2 separate regions of the Homo sapiens genome follow, and region 1 is linked to region 2. A link means that fine-mapping ties the variant in region 2 to the expression of a gene that starts in the linked region. Tissue or cell type: T cells. Region 2 holds a variant in brackets; the other region holds the start of a gene. All regions are shown on one strand. Distances are between the middles of the regions.

Evidence for each region. PIP is the estimated chance that this variant, and not a neighbour inherited with it, causes the effect.
Region 1: LINC02648 starts here. The variant in region 2 is the best candidate, but not a certain one, in a credible set for the expression of LINC02648 in T cells (TOPMed, PIP 0.82).

The regions. Positions count from the first base shown.
Region 1 is chr10:6,617,427-6,620,339 of GRCh38, reverse strand. LINC02648 (long intergenic non-protein coding RNA 2648) reads right to left here and starts at 1,624. Exons shown (of 6, transcript NR_120634.1): 1 at 1,564-1,624.
Region 2 is chr10:7,276,573-7,279,485 of GRCh38, reverse strand. It overlaps SFMBT2 (Scm like with four mbt domains 2), which reads left to right. Exons shown (of 21, transcript NM_001387889.1): 7 at 2,497-2,594. Among named protein-coding and RNA genes, the nearest start is that of SNORD129, 91 kb to the right of the region's middle. The variant C/T (reference allele first, on the strand shown) is at 1,629.

The DNA.
Region 1 (2,913 bases), 660 kb after region 2:
AATTCAGTTTAGGAGGATGAATATTCTACAGATCCATAGTGCAACCACTCCCATTGCCCATCCTTCAGATCTCTTGCCCCTTTCATTCTAGGTCCCACCCCCTGGCAAAACACTATCCATTGGTAAACCTGGCTGTTGCAAACCGACAGCCATTTCCACTTGTACTTGACCATGAAAAATTCTTGGTTATTTTGGAAGAGAAAACAGTAGTGTGGAAAGTTCTATGTGAGTGAGGGTTGGCTACTTTCCTGCCACCTGGTTATAATAAAACCAAGTCACAGATTCAACACCACCACGTATTTAGACATTTTTATACGTAATCGTTTATTAGCAGGCAGATGGGGAGGGTTCTGCAAGCTTCGTGGAGACTGAGCTCCCCGACCTTTTAGAGATCTGTCCACATCTTGCCAGAGACTCTCTGGGTCATACACAACATCGCAGAAAGAGGACTCTGTGACCCCAACGCCTGTCACCAGGCAACAAAAAACCGTCTGACTCATTCTAAACACAGGCCCAGATAGGGATGTAATTTGCTATTCTAAGTGTAAGTAATGTCTCTAAAATATTTTAGGCCACCCATACCGCTTTACTACCACTAATCTTTGTAATCTCAGCACTTTGGGAGGCCGAGGAGGGTAGATCACGAGGTCAGCAGTTCGAGACCAGCCTGATTAACATGGTGAAACCCCGCCTCTACTAAAAATACAAAAATTAGCTAGGCATGGTGGTGCGCGCCTGTAGTCCCAGCTACTCAGGAGGCTGAGGCAGGAGAATCGCTTGAACCCAGGAGGCAGAGGTTGCAGTGAGCCAAGATCATGCCACTGAACTCCAGCCTGGGTGACAGAGTGAGACTCCATCAAAAAAAAAAAAAAAAAAATTCCCATTTCCAACAATTGTGTTAATTAATGAGTGTCAAACTTCACAAAGAAAAATGCACTCTTAATATTTATTAAGCTACTTTTTTAAAAAGCCTGGAGTTGACCAGGGATAGAAGGAATCAAATTCCTTGTTGTAAATGCCTATGGAGGATGGACTTTCTGACACCCTGAGAGTGAATTTCTAAGACAGCAACTGAAGGCCCCATGAGCAGACTTCAACTTTCTAATCTGGAGGGAAGTTTTAAATGATGTTCAGGATACAAAAGGCTAAAGATGTGTGACACATAGTACATGCAAGTGGAATTTGTTTCCCTTGTTTAAAACTAATCATATCTTTTTTTTTTTTGAGATGGAGTCTCGCTCTGTTGCCCAAGCTGGAGTGCAGTGGCATGATCTCAACTCACTGCAACCTCCGCCTCCTGGGTTCAAGCGATTCTCCTGCCTCAGCCCCCCGAGTAGCTGGGATTACAGGCGCCCACCACCATGCCCAGCTAATTTTTGTATTTTTAGTAGAGGCGGGGTTTCGCCATGCTAGCCAGGCTGGTCTCAAACTCCTGACTTGAGGTGTTCCGCCCGCCTTGGCCTCCCAAAGTGCTGGGATTACAGATATGAGCCACTGCCCCCGGCCTAATCATATCTTTTTAAGCAATCAATTGTTTCCTAGAGAAAAATATAACTAACTTACCTTTTGAAATTAAGCTCTTCCCTTTTGCTTCAGGAAAAACTCACTCAAACCAGGCTTCTCCTCTGTTCTCACACTAGAACAATAAACACAGAAGACTTCTGTGACCAAAGGTGTGGGAGTTTCTTCTCACCACCAAGCAGTGGACACCAGCTGGGTGTCCTCCAACTGAATTCCAACTCTATCTACCTGGAGATAGTGACCAATCCCATTGGTTGTAGGCTCAGTCCCCAACCCCCTCCTTCCTCCTAGTTGCAAGTCCAAGCCTCCTGAACTCTGACCAACTGGCATCAAGTCAGGGTTTCCACGACTCTCCCTGGGTTTGATTAATTTGCAAGAGCAGCCCACAGGACTCAGGGAAACACATTTACTGGTTTATTCTAAAGAATGTTGCAAAGGACACAGATGAAGAGATGCATATGGTGAGATACATGGGATGGGGTACAGAGCTATCATGTCCTGGGCATGACACCCTCCAGGGCCCTCCACGTGTTCCACTAACTGCAAGCCCTCTGAATTCTGTCCTTTTTAGTTTTTACGAAGCCGTGACTGATTAAACCATTGGTCATTGGTGATCAACTTGACCTTCTTTAATGTGACACATGTGCTGCCTAAAAATTCAATTCTGAGTCAAACTTGAGGTACACACAGATGTCATTGTCAACTGAAGGGCTACAACTTTTTCCCTTGCTCTTGGTGTTTATTAAATAACAGAAAATTTGTTCCTATGTGCGGGAAGTTGCAACTGCAGTGAAGTGTTCATGGTTTCCCTGAGGCTGACAGAGCACTCTCTTACCCAGAAACCCAGGACTCGCCTCCAGAGTGATATGTGAGTCCCATCTAGAGAGTCTGGGGTTGCATGGGGTGCAGGATTCTTCCTCTTCTCTCCAGACTCTGTTCTCAGACTGAGTCAAAGATTCAACGAAACGCTCCCTCGCCTGGTCATGCACTTGTGTTTAAAGAGAGGGTAGGTATGGTTCAGTTTCATTCTACAGTGCTGCCAGGTTCTGCTCAATAAGAATTGAGACTTACTGATGGCCCCAGGCCCAAGCAACAATGGAAACATCTCAAGGATTTCTTTTGCCTCATGGTTTTTTCCAAAACTTTAGTTTTCTTTTAAATCCAAAAACTCTTGACATTTTTGGTGAAAACATTTTCTCCAGGGCTGTGCAGAGGCTTATTCAACTGGTTGATGTTATGAAAAACATCTGCCAATGTGACTAGTGTTAATAAGCCATTCTCCATCTTCAAAGCACTCCAAAAACCTGGTTTTGTGTCATCTTGAAAGTATCCCTCAAGCACAGTCATGACATTTCTGTTTGGAGGAGAAGATGATGTCTCTTTATCTGACTT
Region 2 (2,913 bases):
CTGGTTGTGTCAGGCTGTCAAAACTGCAGTTGATTTTCACCTTTTCATGAAAGAAGTCTGCCTTGCTGTGGGCTGGGTTCATTCCAGGATTTAACACCATTGGAAAGAAAACAGAGAATCTTCAGGTTGTAGGACAGAGGCAGGACCCACCTGGCACCTGGGCTTCTTGTTACCTTTGTCTCTGGTGTGGAGGAGGAGAGATGGCATCCAGTGGACAGAGGAGTTCATTTTTCAGGGATGACTTGGTTGGTCTGCCTTCCTGGGCCAGCGTGCAGGCAACCCCACTGGGGCCAGAGCATCCTCTCCGTGAGTTCTCATAGCTTGGATCTAACCCTGGTCATGTTGGATTTCCATTCCTCCTGGCCTTAAGTTTTTTTTTTCTTGTTTGTTTGGTTTTTTTTTTTGGAGATGAAGTGCAGTGCAGTGGCACAATCTCAGCTCACTGCAACCTCCGCCTCCAGGGTTCAAGCGATTCTCCTGCCTCAGCCTCCCGAGTAGCTGGTATTACAGACGCCTGCCACCGCACCCAGCTAATTTTTGTTTTTGTTTTGTTTTGTTTTTTTAAATTTTATTAGAAGTGAGGTTTCACCATGTTGGCCTGGCTGGTCTTGAACTCCTGACCTCAAGTGATCCACCCACCTCAGCCTCCCAATGAAGGTGTTTTTTGACCATTCTTATACCTTCTCTTCTGTCTCAGGGCATCCCTCCCCCATTCAGAGACCACCATCAAGGGTCAAGGGTATAACTAGTCCTGATTCCCAAGCAAGGGGCCAAAGGTGTCAGCCAGGTAGATCATGCTTTTCCTTTTTGCACCTGTTGGGTCTTCAAATTCTTTCTTTGGTAATCCCCATTGTTTTCTGTGAGCTGGTCCTTTTCCTACCATGCCCAGGTTGAACTCTCCATCTGCCTGCCCAGCTTGCTGGAAAGGGGCATGTGTTTATGGTCCCTGTCCCATCAGGAGCTCCAGCCTGTTGGCAATTTCTCTCCTGATCCTGCGTTGGCGTCCTCAGGGCTTTGCTCCCCGGGGTCCCCTGAGTGGCCTTCTGTCTCTCCGTGGTTTGGATGCAGTGCCCACGAGCTTGCCTGAGTGCACAGGTATCCCTCTCGCTCTCATGGAGCAGCTTGCAGGGGGCTCTGTGAACTGGTCCCTGTGCCTACTTTTGGGGATCCTGTGATAAGCAGTGTCTTCCTGAGTGCCCCCTTCTCACTGTGGACATCAGAGGCCCCATTCTTTCAGTCTCCACAGAAGTGTGTGTTGAGGCCCATTGAGTGTTCCCAATTACGTTAGCTACTACTAAGAAGAATTTAGAAAGGCCAAACTAGAAGAAAAAAGTTCAGCAGACAGGAAACACTAGAAAGGATTATAGACAATGCACACACGCAGAGGATGTGTGGTTGTGAATTACCCTTTGTGTGTCTTTGTGTAAGTAACAATGACTTCGGGCAGTGCACCGATGGCTTGGCTAGTTCTGGCAGGATCTGATACTTACTGTAATTATGACTGAATAAACTGCGGAAACAGGGGCTTAAAGCTCAAGGTGAGTTCAAAAGCTATGAGGATCAAAATAGATCGCTTCATGCTAAAAAGCAGACATGCAAGAAATTAAAAATACAGTCCCAAAGGTTTA[C/T]TGTTGCTTTTTAACTGTGCTTAATTTCATATTCATATCCTAAGCGTCTGTCTGAAGTAGCCTGGGTTGATATATTGAAGGCATAAACATATCTACTTCCAGTGAGGGCTTCTGCAAATCCTATTTTGATAAGGTCTTAAATCTGTTGAGATCAGGCCATAAAATTCTCCTGCAGTTTCAGCAATAGGTAAAAACAGTGCTCAACGTTTTTTTTTTTCCTTTTAATTTTGCATTCAGACTGTGTAACCTCCATCTGTAAATCTTGCCCCCCCTCCCACTGCCTGGGGAAAAATATGGGCAACATGTGGTGTGTTAAGCAACATTTCAAGTGTAAATATTAAACTTGGTAAATTTTAATTTACCTTTTAATAATTTTCTGACTTACAGGGACTATTTTTAGCAGATGAGAGCTTAGAGATTTAGTGAAAATATGTTGTCATAACTGCAAATGCCAGACTAGAGTCGTTTGTAGTTTAGAAATGTATCAGATAATAAGTTCCTCATCAGTGGGCATTGCTTTCCTAGGTGATAGGTGGAATTTTGGCCCATGGATGACTGAAGGTTTTTGCTAATGTGATTAATACCATTAAATTACTTACAGAATGCCAACTAAATGCATACAAATGTTCCCTGAAGAAGAGCTCTATTAAGTTTATTCTTCATTTCTGACAGCAGAATCCCAAGTTGCTATTTAATTTCAGAAAGTCCTTTCAGCAGGTGGCTGCTCATGGTGGGTATGGGGTGTGAACACTCACGGTCACTGACCGTGCTGAGGTATCAGGAAAGCCTGGGAATTAGCATGCAGGAAAGAGTCACCCGGCAGAACGTGTTAGTCCTTCAACTCTTCTGTGATTTGCTGTTGATACAGAAATCTATCCTTTGAAGATGGCCTCTGAATGGAAATGTACTCTGGAAAAATCCCTTATTGATGCTGCCAAATTTCCTCTTCCAATGGAAGTGTTTAAGGTAAGATGTTGATTCTTAGCAATGTATCTACCCTTTTTGAGAATAAAATCATCTACAAAGTTTTCCGGCCGGGCGCAGTGGCTCATGCCTGTAATCCCAGCACTTTGAGAGGCTGAGGTGGGCGGATCACGACATCAGGAGATCGAGACCATCCTGGCTAACATGGTGAAACCCTATTTCTACTAAAAATACAAAAATTAGCCAGGCGTGTGGTGTGTGCCTGTAATCCCAGCTACTTGGGAGTGTGAGGTAGGAGAATTGCTTGAACTGGGGAGGCAGAAGTTACAGTGAGCTGAGATCGCACCATTGCACTCCAGCC